3 linked regions of the Homo sapiens genome follow. The protein of the gene in region 1 purifies or fractionates together with the protein of each later gene. This does not show direct contact. Each region holds a gene or a part of one and is shown in the gene's direction. Other genes may lie near its edges.

Region 1 (7,108 bases):
CTCAAAATGGAGAATTTGAAAAGTTGCACTGTGACAGTTTGGGCAACCAGTGGTATCTGTATCATTATTTTCAGAAAACACCTGATAATTCTATCCAAAAAGGATTGCTTTCTACAGCTTCTCCCCCAGGGGTCTCTGAAAAAAAGCCTGTTGGTGAAGAAGAAAGACTAAGCATCATCGGTCTAACTGTTGTGAACAGAGTCCAGATGTGTTCCTGCCTCAAATAGGAAAGAATTTAAGCTTTTAGAGACAAAAAAAAACCAAAAACTTATAGCAGACACGAGAGAGATGTGAACTATGGAAAGGCCAGCAGGGACCATGGACATCCTTACCATAGAAATGGAAGATTTTCAGATCTCAAATTCCATTTCCCCTGTGTATTGAACTACATCAATCCGTGCGTAAGCCATCACTTCATATTGGCAATAGAAGCGAGAGGGAAATTTACATTGGGTGTTATATGTGCTGTCTTATGTAAGTCCCCCAAATTTTTCAGCCAAGTTCAAAATAAATTCTGTCCTATCCTAAAGGATATGATTTATACCTCTTAGCAGAAGGTGCTAAGGATGAGGAAGGAGACTCATGTTACACTGTTGCTGAAGCAAAAACTGTGTCTTCTCATGATAATTTGTTTGGTCCACAAAACAGGAGCTGGGCGCTATAAACAATGCCATGGCTGAGCCATAGCCAACACAGTTTTTCATGCTTCATTTTGAGAGGGGGCGAGTAAGGCCTGAAGAAAGTTTGTTGTACAGCGAATATATGAAACTGGCTGTGGTTATTCATTTCAACTTCCTGGACCCAAAACCTTTTACCAGAGCTGCTAACAGGTTGCATAAATCACTCTATGAACTCTGTTTCCTTTCTCCCCCCGACCATCCGAGGAGGGGCAGGCTGCTAATGTGGAAAACATAGATTAGCACAGTGAGAGTCAAGGCCTTCCTGTCTGGGCAGAGCCTGCAAAGCTGAGCGCTGGCCGTATCCTGGCTGCCCAGGAGCCCGGAAGGCAGGGCAGCATGGGCAGTGAAAAGCAGGCACCAGGCTGTCGAGCCCAACAGACGGGGTTTCGAGCCCTACCACTGACCAGCTGCGTGATCTTGGATTATTATACTTCTCGATTTCCTCATTTGTCAAGTGGAATTTTTTTTTTTTTTTTTTGAAACAGGGCCTCACTTGGTCACCCGGTCACCCAGGCTGGAGTGCAGTGGTGCGAACACAGCTCACTGCAGCCTCAGATTCCCGAGCTCAAGTGATCCTCCTGCCTCAGTCTTCCTAAGTGCTGGGATTACAGGCATCAGCCACTGCACCCAGCCAAATAGAAATAATATTAATCTCAGGGCTGGGCGTGGTGGCTCACACCTGTAATCCTAGCACTTTGGGAGGCCAAGGTGGGCGGATCACCTGAATTCAGGAGTTTGAGACCAGCCTGGCCAACATGGTGAAACCCCGTCTCTACTAAAAATATAAAAATTAGCCGGGTATGGTGGCGTGCCTCAGGAGGCTGAGGCAGGAGAATTGCTTGAACCCGGGAGGCGGAGGTTGCAGTGAGCCAAGATCGCGCCATTGCCCTCCAGCCAGGGTGACAGAGCAAGACTCCATCTCAAAAAAAAAAAAAAAAAATCTATATATCTATATATCTCATAGAGTGTTTAGATGATTCGGTGATACAAGGGCATAAAACCCTTTCTTCCAGAAGTTTCTCTATTGGTCTTTGTCAATGAAAGAGAATCCCAATAGTCTTCATGCTTCTTGGGGATGAGGGTCTTGTGGGAGGTGGTCATGGTTGGGGGTTCTGTCCATGAAGCCCCAGCCACTGCACAGAGATGATCTGGGGTCGTCTGCTATCTTCACCCTTGATGTGGAAGCATTTCTGGCTCATAAGAGGACTTTAAAAGGGACTTCAGAGATGTCCGAAGGCTTTTCTCAGAAATGTGTCGTGGCTCAAGCAAACTATCGAGCGAGGCGAATCTGTAATTGCTCTCCACCCTGAGCCTTTTTTGCTGAGTTGTCTTAAACAAATTACCGAAAGTCTCTGAGCATCAGGTTCCTCATCTGAAACTGGAAGATACTAACCACCACCTCGAGGAGACATGATGGAGGTTCATGGGCTGAATCAGCATGCAAAGCCTTCCCAGGGCCTGGCACACAGACATCCCTTCCCTGCTCCTAGAGGGTGAACATTTGTCTGGTCAGGCTGGAGGAGCCCCTAGAATCTGTGGCCAAGGCGCAGGACCCTTGGCAAGCTCCCCGTCTTCCTTTGTAGCCCCTATTCCTATAGTGAGCCAGCTGCCCTGTGGCTGGGCCTTGTCCTGGGAGGGAAATGGAGAAGAGCGCTTTGACAGAGAAACATCCAGCCCAGAAGCGACCCAAGTTTCTGTTGGATGTGAGATCCACCACCGCCAATTCCAACCGCACATCCCCTTGGGGACACGCCCTGGGTCTGTGCGTCGCGGGGCGGACCCTCTACCACATGCTCAGACCCTCCAGTGCGAGAAGCCAGCCTGGTCTGGCTGGTGGAGCACAGGGGGACCGTGCCTGTCCCGTGGGCCTCAAAACAACTCCTCTGGGGTCAGGATCCTCTCACTGTTAGGGGAAGTCTCCACCCCTTTCAGTTGCCCTTTGGCTCCCGCAGGCCAGAGGTGCTCCTGAACAGCAATTTAAAAACACCAGAGTATGATAAGGCAGGTGGCATATTGCTGCAATATTTCAAAGTGGACAATGGGAAAATTAGCCCCTTTTCCAGGCAGCTGCTTCCAGGTCCTCAGCCTCAGGACGCTGGAGTCACATAGCTTAATGCTGTCATCATTTCCCCTTCTCCCTAAACCCTCTCCCAGTTAGTGGAATTTGGGCTGATGCTCTGCAGTGAAAGCCCTCTAATGTGTTGTAAATATTTATCTCTGCAAATCTCTGAAGCCATTTCAAAACAGAAAGACAGAGGAGGCGCTTGCATGGTTCACCTGCCCCTCCCTGAAGGCCTGTTGTGTTTCCCAGGACAGTAGGCACTGTGCTTACCTGAGCATGTCTTTTCTTTGCATCGTTTCTTGATCTATTTTGTTGCGTGTTGCTTTTTGTGTGTTAAGATGTGTCTGCTAAGAATTGTTTCTGGGGATAGGAGAAGGGAAAGGAGAGGACAGAAGGCTCACTATTTTTTTCTTCTGGATTTTTTTTTCCTTTTCTTGTTTATTTTTGGGTATCATTAATTACTCACTCTGGGTTGTAATTCCACCCATGGTCAGATGACATGCTTGTGGCTGGTTTAATTGGATGCTGATGATGAGCCGAGTTGGCCCAAGCATGTCCTGGGAGGGAAATGGAGAAGAGCGCTTTGACAGAGAAACGTCCAGCTCAGAAGCGACCCAAGTTTCTGCTGGATGTGAGATCCACCACCGCCAATTCCAACCGCACATCCCCTTGGGAATGTTGATTTGAAAATCTCCCAGCTGGTACTGGGGCCGTGCATGTGGCCCTCTGTGGTGTAATTGTACGGAAGCATCGGCCGCCAGCCAGGCCTCAAACCCAGGCAGAAGACATAGGTGTTCTCAGCCCTGAAAATAGTCCCCTGGACAGCCAGGAGCTCCTGAGGAGTGCTGCCAGGGCCGTGACGGCAATGATGGTGACAGGGTCTTGGAGGTGTTGAAAGCTACACCTTTAGCTTGTACTCACTTGTCTTCATGCTGATATTTCCATGGGATGATATGCAGATACTCCACGAGCTAGTTGTGTTGGGTGCCTGGTTAGTCCTGAGCACACCCTTTGGTCCATTACACAATGCATTCTGCTCTCTAGGAGTTTATGGCCTGTGTTGGGAGTGGGTTGGAGGTGACGGGGCTAATAAACACAGGAGCATTAACTAGGGAGTCAGTAGACCTGGGTTCTGAGATCAGCTTTGCCACCTAGCTTGCGTGTAATGCCTGACAAGTCTCTCTTCTTGGCCCTCAGCTTCCTCATCTGTAAAATGGGTAGAGTGGCATCAGTTATAACCAGTGTTTTCAGATCTGCCATGCCATTCTTTTTGTTGCGTTTTCTCAAGATTTGGACATGGTGGACATTCAGGCAGCCTTGGGTGCTGGCCATTCTTGTGAGTCTTGTAGCTGTCTAGTCTTCCTTTTTCTCATTCTTCCTCATGATTCTTAGGTTTCATGTCTTCCTGGCTTTGGGGGCAGTTATCTCGTTCATTTATTCCTTACATTTCAGTGATCCTACTGCTATCATTTCAGCTATCCTCCAACCAGCATCTTCTCTGCGATGTTACTTCCATGGATCAGTCTCATTTTGTCCTCACAAAGCCTTCAGCGTTCTGTGTAACCCTCTTGCCCCCACATATTTCCCACAGAGAGACAGCTACCTCAAGGACCAGAGGCCAGAGGAACAGGCCCCTTTAGAAACCTCATCCTAATGAATTCCAGCATTCCTAGTAAGCATCTTTCTCTTCAGCAGTGACATTTACAACTTGGCGTCTTATTTCATAATTACATGAAGGGGCTAACCTCCTGGACAGGTGCCCGCAGGACAGTGCAGGCTGCACAGGGGCCTGTTGGCCTCCGGGAATAGAAAGGAGTGGCCTCCCATCTCAGTTGTTTTATATCTGTGTGAATGGGTCACTTTGTGCTGGAGTTGCCGCCTGTCTCCTTCCTAGTCGGTGGACCTCACCTGGTGAAGTGTTACCAACTTTAAGCAAACCCTTCCTGGAAGGTGCTTTAGGAAGGAGGAGTTGTAAATAACATCGAAGCAGCTCAGATTCTGGTGTCTTAGGCCTACATAGGACCTTTCTGGGTTTACTCCCAGTTGGTCCCTAAAGCGCAGGGGAAGTGCTCAGGTTTACTGAAGGGTATATTAAGACAAGATGAAGATGCTCATCCAGAAGCGTCTGATGGTCCTGAGCCCCGCCCTCCCAGCATATTCCCATTCTCAAGGAATGCCCTCTCCAGAAGGGTGGTGAGACAGGTACGCGGGTGGCCATGACCACAGGCAGGCAGACAGCCATGTGGGGAGCACAGAGCAGGAAGCCATGACTCCTGCAGGGCCTGTCTGGGGTGTTTAGGCTGCTGCTTGCAGAATAAGTAGAGTTTAGATGGCCTTGAAAGAGAGAGCACCTGTAGCAGGTGGTGGGCTTTCGATGTGATGATTGACAGGCTGACTAAATGCACGGCCCTTCCTCCCATCAGGAGTTTCTTTAGTTAGAGCAAAATTATCCCAAGTTCCTTAAATTGCCTTTGCACAAATTCTACATTTGGCCAGTGTGGTGCTGTGCTCCAGAATTCTGTTCCTCAAGGTCTCTAGGATCCCTGTAACACTGTCCATAAGCTATTTCCCACACAAGGCACAGGAGAACCTCCCCATTTTAGCCAATGGAACAGCTGAGGTGCAGAGAAGTAAAATAACTTTCCCTGGGTCACAGGGTCAATCAGCAGCAGAACTGGAAGTTGCACTCGTGTGTTCTGATTCCCAGGCCGGGTACCAGGAACTTGCTCTCGCTGCTTCATCATTGAACCCCATGCGCCCCCTCTTTGGACCTCCCACAGCTGCTCTTCCATTTCAGGCTTCAGCACTGGCCCCTCCCTCTGTTTTTTGCCACCCGCATGTCTCTCTTGAGGGCAGGGTCCTGGTCAGCTTGGTGCCTGGCACAACACCTAGGATCCTGGTCAGGCTGGGCTGGGTGAAGGATAGGGGAATGACCTTCGCCAGTGCCTCCCTCCTGTGCTTCTAGCCCGGAGTCACCTGGAGGTGATGGAAGCAGCTCTTAGGTGCCAGGTGATTGTGACATTGAAGAATCTGGGCTCATCCTGTCTTTTAGGCAGTGGATTAAAAACACTGTGGTATCTGAGATCATTCAGCCGTTTCGCTCTGGTCAGCATCTTCACTTGACACACATCTGGGTTTGCAGAACGCACTGATAAAGGCCTGAGACCATAATGTTTTTTACTTCTCTCTTGTGTGGGTTATTTATCACCTGTGCTCCAAAGAGGAAACACCTGGATGCTTTGAGGGTTTTTTTTTTTTTTTTTTTTTTTTGAGATGGCGCCTTGCTCTGTTGCCCAGGCTGGAGTGCAGTGGCGCGATCTCAGCTCACTGCAACCTCTGCCTCCTGGGTTCAAGCAATTCTCCTGCCTCAGCCTACTGACTAGCTGGAATTACAGGCACCTGCCACCACGCCCAGCTAATTTTTGTATTTTTAGTAGAGACAGGGTTTCACAATGTTGGTCAGGCTGGTCTCAAACTCCTGACCTCGTGATCTACCCGCCTCGGCCTCCCAAAATGCTGGGATTACAGATGTGAGCCACTGTGCCCGGCCCGCTTTGAGTTTTATGTAGGGAAGCAGGGTGTCCACATAAGGTATCATCCAAATGAGATACTTTTGAGAGTGAAATGGTGCACGGTTAACAGTTACATCAGGACAGCAGGCCGACACTGGAGCGTGTGGTCGCCTAGTTTTAAGCAAAATGGATGTCTGCAGTTGGAAGAAAAGACACGGGTAGTCGTTTGTGAAGACTAATAGTGTGGAGGGGTTGCTGGTAGATGAAAGGCCTTTTGTTCCAGCGGTAACTGTGCATCATTCACTGACAACAGTAAGAGTCCAGTGCCCTTTTCTCTGCCCTCCACTTCATTTTCTGTCCGTGGCCGAGCCTCCCAGGAGGTGTACCTGTGTCTCATTGTCCTTTTCTCTTTCCCGCAGAGATCCTGCAGATCATTCAGCTGGACCTAGACCTGAAGTTTAAGACCAACATCCGGGAGTTGTTTGAGGAATTTGACAGTTTCCTGCCAGGCGCCATCATCGGCATAGCCCGGGAGATGCAGCCAGTTTACAGGTGCGTCATGACTGCAGGGGGGCCGCCTCCACGACCCCTCCCCACCCTTCACCCTCTCTCTTCTGCCAGCCGTGACAGATTGGGATTTAGTGGCGTCCGATCCTTCTGCACTTAGTATCTTGGGAACACATTGGTACTTATTGCTTACAGTTGATTGTATGGGCAGGTGGGTCTATCCCAAGCCGTAGGTGCTACCTCATTATTTTGTTGGAGTTTGTGGCCTTTTTCTTCTGAAAAGCCCAGTTGTTCTGGTTGTTGGATCTGGTTAAGCTCAGAATTTTAAAATCTTGGGCTTTGCCTTA
Region 2 (7,108 bases), on another chromosome or scaffold:
CTGGGAAGTCCATTATCAAGGTATCGGCATCTTGAGAGGGCCTCTTTGCTGCTGTATCATCCTATGGTGGAAGGGTAGGAGAGCACACAGCAAGAGGCGCAGAGGGGCCAAACTTGCTTTTGTAACAAAGCCACTCTCTAACCCAGTCCCGCAATAATGACATTAATCTATTCATGGCGGCAGAACCCTCTTGATCTAATCACCTCTTAAAGGTTCTACTTCTCAACATGGTTGCATTGAAGGTTAAGTTTCCAGCACATGAACTTTGGGGGACACGTTCAGGCCATAATAGAATATTTGTGTGATTTTGTTTTTTTGACACAGGGTCTTGCTTTGTTGCCCAGGCTGGAATGCAATGGCATGATCACTGCCTTATTGCAGCCTCGACCTTCTGGGCTCAAACAATCCTCCCACCTCAGCCTCTTAAGTAACTGGGACTACAGGCAAGAACCACTATGCCCAGCTAATTTTTATTTATTTATTTTTGTAGAGATGAGCGTCTTACTAGATTGCCCAGGCTGGTCTCAAACTCCTGGGCTTAAGCAATCCTCCTGCCTCAGCCTTCCAAAGTGTTGGGATTAAAGGTGTGAACCACCACTCCCAGCTCATAACAGCATATTAATAGAGTTAATGAAATGCTATAAATGTTTGGAGTGAAGTCGTAAATGAAATTTGCTTTCCCATGTAGCCAAGTGGTAAATGAAATTTACCACTGTAAATTTGAATCAGTACCACTGATTCAACTTCAAATTCTTTGTTCATTACTGAATTGCCTCTTACTGAATCTGACCTGGTCTGTCTACCTCTGATGCAAATGAATTTACCACTGCTTTCCATGTATGTTGTTGCTAAGGTTCTAGATCAGGGTAGTAAATGTAGGGATGGACTGGGAATAATGGGGAAAGTTAGTTCTAGGGAGGCAGAAATAGTTCTGTTTTAGAGTAGACTAAACCAGGTACCTAGTCTTTCACAAAAGCCCTTTGAAAACCCAGAAAGTCTTTGGACCTTCAGAGTGGAGACATATCTGTTGGTTGGGCATTGAACTGAGCCAGCAACATGCCATTGTTTCAGACTACTTCAGGTCTCTATAAGCTAGCTTCAAGCTAAATTACATTTCCCAAGTCTGTCGTTGACTTCTGGGTGGGGAGAGATGAGTGAGATAGGACTTCAGCAGCTTTGCCTTTATATTGCCTTGCCTTTTGAAAAACGACCCATGCTTGAAGACACATCTTCAGATATAGGATCTGATTATATTAATCTATATTAATAGATTTTTTAGTTGTAATCTATTAGTTCCTACTGTAGAATATGAGAATTTAGCTCTCTTTCTGCCTTCCACTCACCCCATCACGTATGCATCTTTTTCTGTGCCTTTTTTTTTTTTTTTTTTTTTGAGACGAGTCTCGCTCTGTCGCCCAGGCCGGAGTGCAGTGGCGCTGTCTCGGCTCACTGCAAGCCCCGCCTCCCGGGTTGACGCCATTCTGCCTTAGCCTCCCGAGTAGCTGGGACTTTAGGCGCCCGCCACGGCGCCCGGCTAATTTTTTGTATTTTTAGTAGAGACGGGGTTTCACAGTGTTAGCCAGGATGGTCTGGATCTCCTGACCTCGTGATCCGCCCGCCTTGGCCTCCCAAAGTGCTCGGATTACAGGCGTGAGCCACCATGCCCGGCCTCCGTGCTCTGACTCTTATAATTTAAGCTGTGGAATAATCTATGATAACTCTTCCTCAACAATTTTATGATCTGCATGTGGCTAATAATTGTTTTATTTTGGTTTTCATTTGCTTAGCTTACTATGTATTTATCACTGAGTCAATTTCAAAGTCTTTGTTCGTTACCGAATCACCTCTTAAGGCCTTTAGATACATTGGATATTTTACAATTTCCTCTCCTGACAATGCAAACTTTCTGACCTGGTCTGTCTACCTCTGATGCACAACTAATCCTAGGATTTCCCTTCATTGTTGTTTCCAAAACAACTTTTTTGAACCTCATATGTTGGATTTTTATTGTCAGTATCCTTTAGCTTTCTCTTGGTTGGTTTTCTTCCTTGTTGCCTTATTGGAACATAACCTCTAAGAGCTTCCTGAAATGTAGTGCATCAGTAATAAATGTTTTAAGACCTTGCAAGTCTGAAAGTTATTTTATTTTGCCTTGTTACTGGCATGATAATTTGAATGGTTGTAGCATTCTAATTTTAAAATAATTTTCTTTCAGAATTGTGATGGAATCCATTGTATTTCATCTTCTAGTGTTACTGTTGAGAAGTCTGAAGCCATTCTGATTTTTGAACTATTTTTTTTTTCTTTCTGGAAGGCAGTCTACTTCTATCCATTGTTCCAGGCCATTGGCGGGCCCTTTTAATATGAAAACTCATGTCCATAAATTCTGGGAAATGTTCTTCAATTAATTCTTTGGCTGCTTTCTCTTTATTTTTTCTGTCTTCTTTTTTCTGGAACTGTTTTTATTCAGATATTGAACTTGCTTTCTAAATTTCTCTCTTTTTTTTTTTTCTTGGCTGTAATCTCTAGCAGGTTGCCTTGACTTTGTGAAATTATGTCCTTGTTTCATGGTTGCAATATCTTATACCTCTAAGGATGATAATGACAATTTAAAAAAATGTTTTAAGGTATTTCCTCCTTAATGGTCTGTTTTCCTCCATATTGGTTTTTTTCTCATCTCTATTTGTTTTGATCACTGTATTTCATGCTGGAGGCTTTCCCCAGATGTCTGGTAATCTTTATTGTGTGCTCAGTGTTATGGGTAGAGAATTAAGAAGCTCCTGGGAGATCTGTGCTCCTGGATGGGGCTTGCTGGTTGTGAGTTTTACTGTTGAGTTATCTGGTAGGGCCATTATATTGGGCTGATCTGCTGCCTAGAGGATGAGGGTATGGTTTCCAGGGTTTTCTTTTGGTGGTCTTGGGCTCCAGTAGGAATATACACATTCTTCACACTCCCAAGACTCAACTATCCTTATGTCCCCCCATTCAAAGATTTTCTTTTTAAAGAAAAAGCTTCAGACTTTTGCTGAGTACTAGCAGGACAGTTGTCTGGCTGGGTTGTCTAGCTGCACATCCCTCCCCCACCCCCCGTGTTTTGTTTTTGTTTTTTTTTTTGTCTTAATACCTTAAGTATTTTTTAAAATCAGTTTAAGAAATACTTAATGCTAACCATTTAAAACATTGTGCTAGGGACTTGGGAAGACACAAAGAACCTAATCTGGATTCTGCCATTAAGAACTTCACAGACCACTACCGAAGATGCACACAAACATCTATGCTTTGAAGTGTTAAGGGTTACACATAGTGGGTAGATTTAGTGGTTTACATAATACAGATTTTAAAACATGTTCTATCTTTTGACTTCCTCTGGGCTTATTGATAAAATGGTTTCAAAAGCATTAAAAAACAAAAACAACACCCCCTAAAATGAAGTGAACAAGTTGAAATTGGTTACTACCAGGTATCTTTCTTTGAAGACTTTTTCATAATGCTTCAGATTCTGAAGACTTTCGATTAGTCTTTCTTATCTTAGTTCCTGCCTCTTTGTCCTCACCTCTGGAGGTATATAGTGCTGTTAATTCTTTTCCTCCAGTTTTTTTATTGTGATACAATACACAAAACATAAAATTTGCCATCTTAACCATTTTAAACTGTACAGTTCAATGGTATTAAGTATATTCATAATGTGTAACCATCACCACCATCCATCTTTTAACTCTTTTTATCTCTTTACACTGAAACTGTACCTGTTTAAGCAATAACTCATTGTCTCCACCCCCAGACCCTGGCAACCACGATTCTACTTTATGTCTGTATGATTTTGACAGCTCTAAGTTCCACATATAAGTGGGATCATACAGTATTTGTGTTTTTATAACTGGCTTATTTCGTTTAGCACAATGTCCTCAAGGTTCTTCCATGTTGTAGCATATGTCAGAATTTCCCTCCTTTTTAAGGCTGAATAAAATTTCATGTTTATACCACATTTTGTTTATTCATCCATTGATGGACACTTAGGTTGATGCCACATTTGAGCTATTGTGAATAATGCTACTATGAATATGGTTATACACATATCTCTTTAAGATCCTGCTTTCATTTCCATTGGGAATATATCCAGAAATGGAATTGCTGAGTCATATGGTAATTTTATTTTTAATTTTTCTAGGAATTTCCATACTTTTTTCTGTAGCAGGTGTCTTTGCTTTCACGTAGTATATTCTGTATGTCTGTTAGTTCTAGTTGATTTATTTTGTTAAGTCCTCTTTTTCCTTACATGTTTTCTGTCTGATTATTCTATCCATTATTGAGATTGAGATATTGAAGTCTTCAACTATTATTGTAGAACTATCTATATATCACTTCAATTATGTCAGTTTTTGTTTTATATATTATGTGCATAAATGTTTATAATTGTTATATCTTCTTCCTGTACCGAACTTTTTATTAATATATAATATCCTTCTTTGTCTCTTGTTTTCTTTTTTTGATTTAAGGTCAATTTTGTCTAATGTTAATATAGCTGCTCCTGCTTTCTTTTGTTTGCTGTTTTCATGGAATATCCTGTTTCATCCTATCACTTTCAGTATATTTGTGTCTTTGGATCTAAAGTGAGTCTCATAAACAGCACCGAGCTGGATTATGTTTTTTAAAATGGTTTCTGCCAATCTTTGTCTTTTGATTGGAGAATTTAATTCATTTACATTGAAAGTAATCACCGATGCCATTTTGCTGTCTGTTTTCTATATGCCTTAAAGTTTGTTTGGTTTTTTTTTTTTTTTTTTTTGGTCTCTCATCTCCTGCATTACTGTCTTCTTTTGTGTTTAGTTGATTTATTTATTTATATGTTTGTTTATTTATTTATTTTATTTTTATCTTTTTTTGAGACGGAGTTTCAGTCTGTGGCCCAGGCTGGAGTGCAGTGGCGCAATCTCGGCTCACTGCAAGCTCCACCTCTTGGGTTCACGCCATTCTCCTGCCTCAGCCTCCCGAGTAGCTGGGACTACAGGCCCCTGCCACCACACCTGGCTAATTTTTTGTATTTTTAGTAGAGATGGGGTTTCACCGTGTTAGCCAGGATAGTCCCGATCTCCTGACCTTGTGATCCGCCGGCCTCAGCCTCCCAAAGTGCTGGGATTACAGGCGTGAGCCACGGCGCCCGGCCTAGTTTATTTATGTTTAAATTCCTTCCCCATTTCCTTAGTGTATATTCTATTTTTGTGTGTGTTTACCATGAGGATTATATTTAATATCCTAAAGTTGTAATCCTCTAATTTGAATGTATACATTTAACTTCAATAACAAACAAAAATTCTTCTTTATAGCTCCATCTTCACCCCTTTTGGTTGTTGGTGTCACAGAATTACATCTGTATGTACTCTGTGTCCTAAAAACATAAAGTAATAATTACTTTAAATGCCTTAATTTCTGAAATTATGTAGGAAAAATTTGGAGTTACAAACCAAAGTTACAATATCATTAGCTTTTAGGCTAATTTTTTTAATGTAATGTTTCTTAAATGACATAGAAATCAAAAGGTAGAGTTATAAACCACTATCGTATTTACCATTATTGAGATCTTTATTTCTTCATATTGCTTCAAGTCTGTCTAGTGTGTTTTCATTTCACTGTGCGAGAAGGCTCCTTTAAGCATTTCTTACAGGGAGGTCTCATGGCAGCAAACTCCCTCACCATTTTTTTTTTTTTTTTTTTTTTTAAGAAATGGTGTCTTACTCTTTTGGCCCAGGCGGGCATACAGTGGTACAGTCATAGCTCACTTAAGTCTCAAACTCCCAGGCTCAAGGGATCCTCTCGCCTTAGCCTCCCAAGTAACTGGGACTACAGGTGTGTACTATCACACCTAGCTAATGCTCCAAAAAAATTTTTCAAGATGGGGTTTCGCTATGTTGACCAGGCTGGAATGCAGTGGCTGTTCTTGAGTGTGGTCGCAGCACTCTGCAGCCTCCAACTTCTGGGCTCAAGCGGTTCTCCTATCTCAGTCTCCTGAGGTGCTGGGACTACAGGTGTGTGCTACTGCACTCAGTTTGACCTCCAAAGTTTTTGATGAGAAATCTACTAATTATATTATTGAGGATCCCTTGTATGTGATAAGTTACTTCTTTCTTACTGCTTTCAAGATTCTTTGTATCTCCCTTTCTTAAGTTTGAATATAATGTGACTTGGTGTGGGTCTCTTTGAATTTATCTTCTTGGAGTTTGTTGAGTTTCTTTGGATGTTTATATTCATGTCTTTCATCAAATTTGGGATGTTTCCAGCCATTATTTCTTCAGATATTCTCTCTGCTCCCTTTCCCCTCTCTCTAGGACTGCCACAATCTGTATGCTGGCCTACCTCATGTTGTTCCACAAGTCCCTTAGGCTCTGTTCATTTTTTTTTTTTTCAGTCTTTTTTTGTGTTCTTCAAACCTGATAATTTCTACTGTCCTATGTTCAAGTTTGCTAATTATTTCTTCTTGCTTGAATCTGTCTTCAAGTTGTCTAGTGAATAATTTCATTTCAGTTATCATACCTTTCATCTTCATAATTTCTTTTTGGTTTCTTTATAGGTTTTCTGCCTCTTTACTGATACTTCAGTTTTCTTCATGCATAATTTTCTTGACTTTCTCCATCTTCCTTTAGTTCTTTGAGCATGTTTAAAACAGTTGTTTTAAAGTCTCTGTCTAGTAGATCTGCTGCCAGGTCTTTTTCAGGGACAGTGTCTATTGACTTAATTTTTCCTTTGAATGGGCCATACTTTTCTGTTTATTTGTATGCGTGTGATTTTTTTGTTGTGGTTGAAAGTGAACATTTAATCTAATAATATAACTCTAGAAATCATATTCTTCCCCTTTTCCAGGGTTTGCTGTTTTTTGTTATGTTTTTGTGTATTATCTTTTTGTTGTTGTTGTTGTTGAAGGGTGTCTTTGTTTCAAATATCGGGCTAAGATGTAAACTTAGTCTTCTCAGTCTTTTCTGAGCCTGTGCTTTTCCCTGGGCATGCACTTTCACTTTCTAATTTTTTCCATATATGTAGTTCCTTTTGAATATCTTAGTCTTTATTATCTTGCTCCCAGAAGAGGAAAATGAAGGTGTTAGGGGAATGGACATCA
Region 3 (7,108 bases), on another chromosome or scaffold:
GAACTCTCTCACACTTGCTTCACCTATGGCTAGTTCCCATCCCAGCAAAGTTTGTTGAGTAACTTGCAGTGACTACTTCTGCCTTTTAAAACCTTTTTTATTTTTTATTTTCTGAGGCCGGCACTGTGAAACCTTCGTCGATGTGTGTCCCCAGATGCCCTGCCTGAATGGAGGGACTTGTGCTGTGGCCAGTAACATGCCTGATGGTTTCATTTGCCGTTGTCCCCCGGTAAGTGCCCTGTTGCTCATCTAAGAAGGGGCATTGTCTCTTCCATACAATCTGTGAACAGAACTGAGATTAAACCTGGTTTTACCAATCTTCGAAATGGGAAGATTTCTCAATTTTAGCTCTTTCAGAGGAAAGTGCTTGGGTTTTTCCATTTAAAGCTGTTTACAAGTGACAAAACAAAACAAAAACAAATAAAAGCTGTTTAGACACTCCCAGAAACAGTGAGCTTCCCAATCCATGACTGTCAGTCTTAAGAAAAACTAAGGGAAAACCACAAAAAGTGGTGGAGTGCCCCCTTGAAAATAGGGCTGATGTGTGGGGCTTCTTGGCCCCAGGCTGGAGGGTAATCTCACTGCCCAGATTGGGCCAGAGTTGGTGGAAATGCTGCTCTTACATTCTTTAGCAGGAACCATTTGGAAGCAAGTTGTCTCTTAAAGTAGAGGGAAGCTCAATTTTAGCTATTTGCTATACCCATTCTTTTATCACTGCCAGAGGTTGAAACCTTCCCAAAACAAGAGATCCCTATGCCTCGGGAGATACCAAAAGGAAACCTGTCTAGTAACCTTGGCTTGGGCTGAACGGGAAGTACAGAAGGGAGTGAGATGTGGAGGTTTTCTAGAAACCTCAAACTTCCAATATGACTGTTTTCCTACCAATGCCATTTTTATTTCCTCACTGATTTCCACAGGGATTTTCCGGGGCAAGGTGCCAGAGCAGCTGTGGACAAGTGAAATGTAGGAAGGGGGAGCAGTGTGTGCACACCGCCTCTGGACCCCGCTGCTTCTGCCCCAGTCCCCGGGACTGCGAGTCAGGCTGTGCCAGTAGCCCCTGCCAGCACGGGGGCAGCTGCCACCCTCAGCGCCAGCCTCCTTATTACTCCTGCCAGTGTGCCCCACCATTCTCGGGTAGCCGCTGTGAACTCTACACGGCACCCCCCAGCACCCCTCCTGCCACCTGTCTGAGCCAGTATTGTGCCGACAAAGCTCGGGATGGCGTCTGTGATGAGGCCTGCAACAGCCATGCCTGCCAGTGGGATGGGGGTGACTGTTCTCTCACCATGGAGAACCCCTGGGCCAACTGCTCCTCCCCACTTCCCTGCTGGGATTATATCAACAACCAGTGTGATGAGCTGTGCAACACGGTCGAGTGCCTGTTTGACAACTTTGAATGCCAGGGGAACAGCAAGACATGCAAGTAAGGGCTTCACGTTTTCCAGAACTGAAGGGGACTGTCACTAACACACTTCAGTTTCTCGTTCTTGCTCCTAACCACTCCAGTGCTTCAGCCTAAGCTGCCTCTGCTTTTCAGATGGTGCCAGCCTTGTCCCATCGCACACTGCCCTGTGCTCTCCCTTGCTGACAATGGGCCAGGAATGCTCATTGCATAATGACCCTCTCTCTCTGCCTATCTTTGCCTTCTCACCTGCTGCCTTCGTGACCTCCTGGGGGATATAACTTTTGGAAGTGGTGTTTCCCACTTCAAGCAGCCTCTCACATAACCTGCCTGCAGGATGGATGGAAAGGTCTGTATCTCTCTCTTCACCCCATTCCTTTCCCTAAGACTGTTTTTCCCCATCTAGATTTATCAGGAAGCATGAATTAGATTAAGTCTGTGAACCCTCCCGGTCTTAATTGTATAGGATGCTCTATGGTTTACTTAGGAACTTTCCTATTAACTAGCCATTCCATATAATTTAATCCCAATTAATTCTCAGCAACTCACGAGGCATAGGTATTACTAACATTCTTTCATAGGTGAGAGAACTTAGGCCCAAGGGTTAAAGAACTTGCCAAAGCAAGTTGTTTCTTTGACTCCTAATCTTCTGATTGAGCTAGCATGAAAAGTTGTACCAAATAGTATAAATATCAAGGGGTAGGGGATGAGGAGAGGAGAGTATAGATGGAATAGTTTGTACATCATTTAGGTTTGGGGGTTCTAATTCCTTTTCCAAATATTGAAAGAGCCTGTACAAGTAATATCTGGTGTGCTATAAGGACATACCCATCTGCCTTTACCTTCTGTAGTTGGGATTCACTCTTGAAAGGGAAAGAAATGGGTCATGTTAATATTGTTCTCTGTATGGCAACTCTCAATGGTTCAGGGCCTTGTATCAAGTTTCTAGAGGCATCTTTCACTTCCTAAAGCCCGTTGTTACCTTACTGGGGGCAATGGATTTCTCTAAAGTAGAGGAAGCATGAACCAGGTTGACTTTTGTTTCAGATATGCAGCTTTGTTTGAAAACCTGACTTAACAGGCTTGTAAACTGCCTGGGAGCCCCTAAGCTCCTGCAGCATAGTGAGTACAATGTTCTTCATTTAGGAAGTACTCAACAAGGATGAGTGGCATAGGCATCAGGGATAGGAGATGCAAAGAAGGTTTTGTGGGGCATTTGGGTCCTGGGTGTGGGCCACAGAAAATGGGTAGGAAAATCCACAGTAGTTCCAAATGAAAAAGCAAATAGAGCTCCAGTCTAATCTGAGCTCTTTTGCCTGTTCTCTGCTTCCCCTTACCTAGGTATGACAAATACTGTGCAGACCACTTCAAAGACAACCACTGTGACCAGGGGTGCAACAGTGAGGAGTGTGGTTGGGATGGGCTGGACTGTGCTGCTGACCAACCTGAGAACCTGGCAGAAGGTACCCTGGTTATTGTGGTATTGATGCCACCTGAACAACTGCTCCAGGATGCTCGCAGCTTCTTGCGGGCACTGGGTACCCTGCTCCACACCAACCTGCGCATTAAGCGGGACTCCCAGGGGGAACTCATGGTGTACCCCTATTATGGTGAGAAGTCAGCTGCTATGAAGAAACAGAGGATGACACGCAGATCCCTTCCTGGTGAACAAGAACAGGAGGTGGCTGGGTAGGTGTTTGGTTTCTGAACTTCAAGGCTAATTTTATGAAGCCTAGCACTTTGACATATAGCACAAGTCATAACTCAACCTATAGAAATGCAAAGATCAGAAAAATAGAATGGCCCACCACTTAAGATAAACCCGTTACCCCAGTACTTACGTTTAAATGTAAAGATATGCCTTCGTCTTGGCTGAAAAGTGGGCAGGGGTACACAGGAGGCAGAATGTCTGGAAGGCCTCCTCAGATGCCAGAATCCATAACCTTTTGCCAGAGTTGCCTCAAATCCCTTTATTAGTGACATTCCTTTTTACATTAATCATTGCCTTATTGTTAAGGCCCTTCTTTAGAATATATGTCTCTTTGACACAGGTAATGATCTTCAGTTGCTCTGTCATTCACACCTCACTCTTTGTTGGTATATTGTCAAACTTTCAACCCTCCAGCTAGCTGAGATACCAATGCAGAGACAAAGGAAAATAAGGACTAAAAACACACAGGGATGTATGTTTAGAGTAGCACCAAGTACCACTGAGTAGGTATGAAAGAGTGGAAGAAGACCACTGAAACCTTCGGGAGGAAAGCACAGCTTCTCACTTTGTCATGCATTGCCTCAGCCAGAAGGCTTTGGTCAGCCAGACTAAGGAAGGTGGGACATCCTCTATGTGGGAATTAGTGTTTAAGATCTCAAGGGACAGTATTCTAATTCCTGAGATATGTCTTAAGGCAGCATCCCAGAGGTGGGGACCTGATGCTGAAGGGGAGGAAGGGAGGCTCCTGTCACCCTTTATGACATGTTCTGCCTGACCTGCACTCTTCTGTTTTACCCCCATCTCTCCTCCTCCGCTTCTCCCTTGGCATCCCACAGCTCTAAAGTCTTTCTGGAAATTGACAACCGCCAGTGTGTTCAAGACTCAGACCACTGCTTCAAGAACACGGATGCAGCAGCAGCTCTCCTGGCCTCTCACGCCATACAGGGGACCCTGTCATACCCTCTTGTGTCTGTCGTCAGTGAGTGGCACTGGTGTAAAGGGGAAAGGTGGCGGGGGAAGAGTGTCAATTGGGGGAACAATTTTCATTATGTAGCCCTCTATTTTTTCAGGACTGTTGAGGTCAAAGTTGCCCTCTAAATGAATCTAATGCTGACATTGAGAGGTTAATGTTTTATTCAGCACTTTCCCTGTCTCTGTGGACTTTCAGGTGAATCCCTGACTCCAGAACGCACTCAGCTCCTCTATCTCCTTGCTGTTGCTGTTGTCATCATTCTGTTTATTATTCTGCTGGGGGTAATCATGGCAAAACGAAAGCGTAAGCATGGCTCTCTCTGGCTGCCTGAAGGTTTCACTCTTCGCCGAGATGCAAGCAATCACAAGCGTCGTGAGCCAGTGGGACAGGATGCTGTGGGGCTGAAGTAAGAGGCATTGCCAATAAGCCACTATTCACAGTATAAGTAGGGATGACTAGAAAAGCATATCTTGTTGAATCATGATTTTAAATTCTAAGCTCTGGGCATTTACTCACATTGACCATGATTCTAAATGCCTTGTGAGTGACTGAAACCACAGTCAGAGCGTGGGTGCATCTATTCTGTGTATATTATCACAATGCCGCCCAGCTTCTGTGTTGAGGTGCCCTTTTGTTGTAAGCTCACGATCAATGGGAAGGGAAAGGATGAATGCCAAGGGAATGTCACCAAAAATACTGCCCATCTTCTCTGGGCCAAGACCCTGCAAAATTGTAATATAGCCACGGGAGTGTGTCATGGTGGAAAGTGTTGAAAACCACTGTATTAGTTTATGACTGCCATTCTTATTTTTTCTTTTTATAATCATATTAGAAATCTCTCAGTGCAAGTCTCAGAAGCTAACCTAATTGGTACTGGAACAAGTGAACACTGGGTCGATGATGAAGGGCCCCAGCCAAAGAAAGTAAAGGTGAGGTGGCCATGGTAGAACCACCATTGTCAGCCATTATCTGGTTACATTTCAAATTTCTGTCCTTTAGCTCCAGAGTGTCCTGAATGGGAGTAAAGAGTGATAGTCTTGATGTCTTACCCAGACAATAACTATCCTAGGTTCTCCTAAACAGCAGGAATCCTTAGGACGTAAATGACCTTGGGTTACCTATATATGCTCTTCAAGAATAACTCTTTAAAAATACTAAGCACATCTGTTTCCTTTAGTGTTATGCTGGCAGTAGTCAAGTCAGGAATGGTGTGTGTAGATGGCAATTCCTTCATGGCCACATCTCTTCCTTATCCTTTATGGGCACTTCTTCTATAAGAGAAGATGAAATTAAGCAGTGGAAGAAAGCCAGTTATCATTGACATTGGCAAAATGAAAGCCAGTGATCATGGCAAAACGTTGACATTGGAGGCTCCATACCTTGAGCCCAGGAAACTAAAGCCATATAAAAGCAAGTGGTAGATTGGGCTGAGACTGACATGAAAAAGCAGACCATCCATCCACAGCTGTGCATGGCTGGGAGCTGGTGGAGCATGATGGTTAAGAAGATTGCTTTAGTTAATATCAGAACTGGATTCAAATCCAAAACTCTGCCGCTTAGTAGCTGGCAAGTTACTTAACCTCTTTGTAATTATCCTTCCTTGTAAAATGCGGATAATAATAACCCTTTCCTCTGTGAGTTGTTGTGTTGGCATATGTGCCTTATCTACTTTCCTGTCATGTACTAGGTATTCAGTAAAGGGTAGCTGCTTTTAAATTATCATGATTATTATTATTGAATAGTCTTTCCTGAGTGCTTACTACATGTTGGGTGCTATGTTGAGTACAAGGAAACAACCTTGAACAAGGCTTATTTTCCCTTCTTGAGAAGCTTACAGCCTTGTGGTGGAGATGGCCATGTAGTGCTGTGTAAGCATTTAACACATGATCAGTTAAGCAGAGGTAAGCAGAGTATGCTTTTTAGGGCCAACAAGAAGAATTAAAGTTTACTTTCTAGTGGAGGGTAGGAAAAGTGAGAATTGGGTGCTCTGGAGATCTAAAGGCTAAAGCCTAGAGTTTGGGATTGGGGGAGGGAGTTGTCTAGATGATGCAGGAAAGGTAAGCAGGAGCCACATCACGAGAGCAGTGGGAAGCCAAGGCTGAGGTAATCCTCTGGAGGGGTGGAGGAGTAGGAAGAGAGAAAACAATGGGAGATAAGCAGCGGTGGTGGAGGCTCTGGACACCTTCTGATTAGCAGTTTCTGGTGGTGGCCAGATTGATAGGGAGCATTGTTTTCACCTTTCAGGCTGAAGATGAGGCCTTACTCTCAGAAGAAGATGACCCCATTGATCGACGGCCATGGACACAGCAGCACCTTGAAGCTGCAGACATCCGTAGGACACCATCGCTGGCTCTCACCCCTCCTCAGGCAGAGCAGGAGGTGGATGTGTTAGATGTGAATGTCCGTGGCCCAGGTCAGCACCGGGCCTCTTCCCCTCTTCACTGGGCTGTGTCTGCCCATGGTTCCACATTGTTGTCCCTGTGTTTGCCCTGTCCAGTCATAAACCCCTTCCCAATTTCACAGACTCTAAATCAGCTCGAGGAAATGAATGCTTAAGGAATGTAGCCACAAAGAAATTATCAGCTCAGAAAGGGAAGGATTTCACATTGCTTCATGTACAGTGTGTTGAGACTAAACAGGCTGATAAAATGGGTTAGATTGTAGTGGGATAGAAAAATAATATCCCAAAGCAGAGGATAGTTAGTATCTTATGCATGTATTAATTGTTCTATTAATATTAGATATTTTTAAATGTCCAATTAAAATAACAGCACTTAAACTTGAACAGAAAAACGTGTTTAGAGAAGAGCCCCCAGCTTAAAAAGACTTGTACTTTCCCATTATTCTTTACAGAAATGATACTATCAGAGGAAAAGGTGGCAAATGTGAAACTAATAACCAGTTACTACAAGAAGTACAGGGAATTCTTTGCCCCTAAGAATAACTTTAGTCAAATAGAGCTGTTTCAACCATAGGGTTAACTACCTTCTCCTTCTTGAGTACTTTATGGAATTTTCCATTC

What was found.
Region 2: the proteins of XXYLT1 (region 1) and PLAA purify together in Homo sapiens (co-immunoprecipitation; 2 studies listed by BioGRID and IntAct, with this or other methods). This does not show direct contact.
Region 3: the proteins of XXYLT1 (region 1) and NOTCH2 purify together in Homo sapiens (co-immunoprecipitation; 2 studies listed by BioGRID and IntAct, with this or other methods). This does not show direct contact.

What each region holds. Positions count from the first base shown.
Region 1 is NC_000003.12:195,156,147-195,163,254, reverse strand, and holds part of XXYLT1 (xyloside xylosyltransferase 1), read left to right. Parts: intron 1-1,677; exon of another isoform or gene 1,678-4,395; coding exon of another isoform or gene 4,396-4,414; intron 4,415-6,673; coding exon 6,674-6,806; intron 6,807-7,108. UniProt on the Homo sapiens protein: Alpha-1,3-xylosyltransferase, which elongates the O-linked xylose-glucose disaccharide attached to EGF-like repeats in the extracellular domain of target proteins by catalyzing the addition of the second xylose.
Region 2 is NC_000009.12:26,937,163-26,944,270, reverse strand, and holds part of PLAA (phospholipase A-2-activating protein), read left to right. Parts: intron 1-7,108. UniProt on the Homo sapiens protein: Plays a role in protein ubiquitination, sorting and degradation through its association with VCP. Involved in ubiquitin-mediated membrane proteins trafficking to late endosomes in an ESCRT-dependent manner, and hence plays a role in synaptic vesicle recycling.
Region 3 is NC_000001.11:119,919,620-119,926,727, reverse strand, and holds part of NOTCH2 (neurogenic locus notch homolog protein 2 isoform 1 preproprotein), read left to right. Parts: intron 1-116; coding exon 117-229; intron 230-917; coding exon 918-1,423; intron 1,424-2,743; coding exon 2,744-3,091; intron 3,092-3,949; coding exon 3,950-4,092; intron 4,093-4,281; coding exon 4,282-4,492; intron 4,493-4,918; coding exon 4,919-5,015; intron 5,016-6,330; coding exon 6,331-6,499; intron 6,500-7,108. UniProt on the Homo sapiens protein: Functions as a receptor for membrane-bound ligands Jagged-1 (JAG1), Jagged-2 (JAG2) and Delta-1 (DLL1) to regulate cell-fate determination.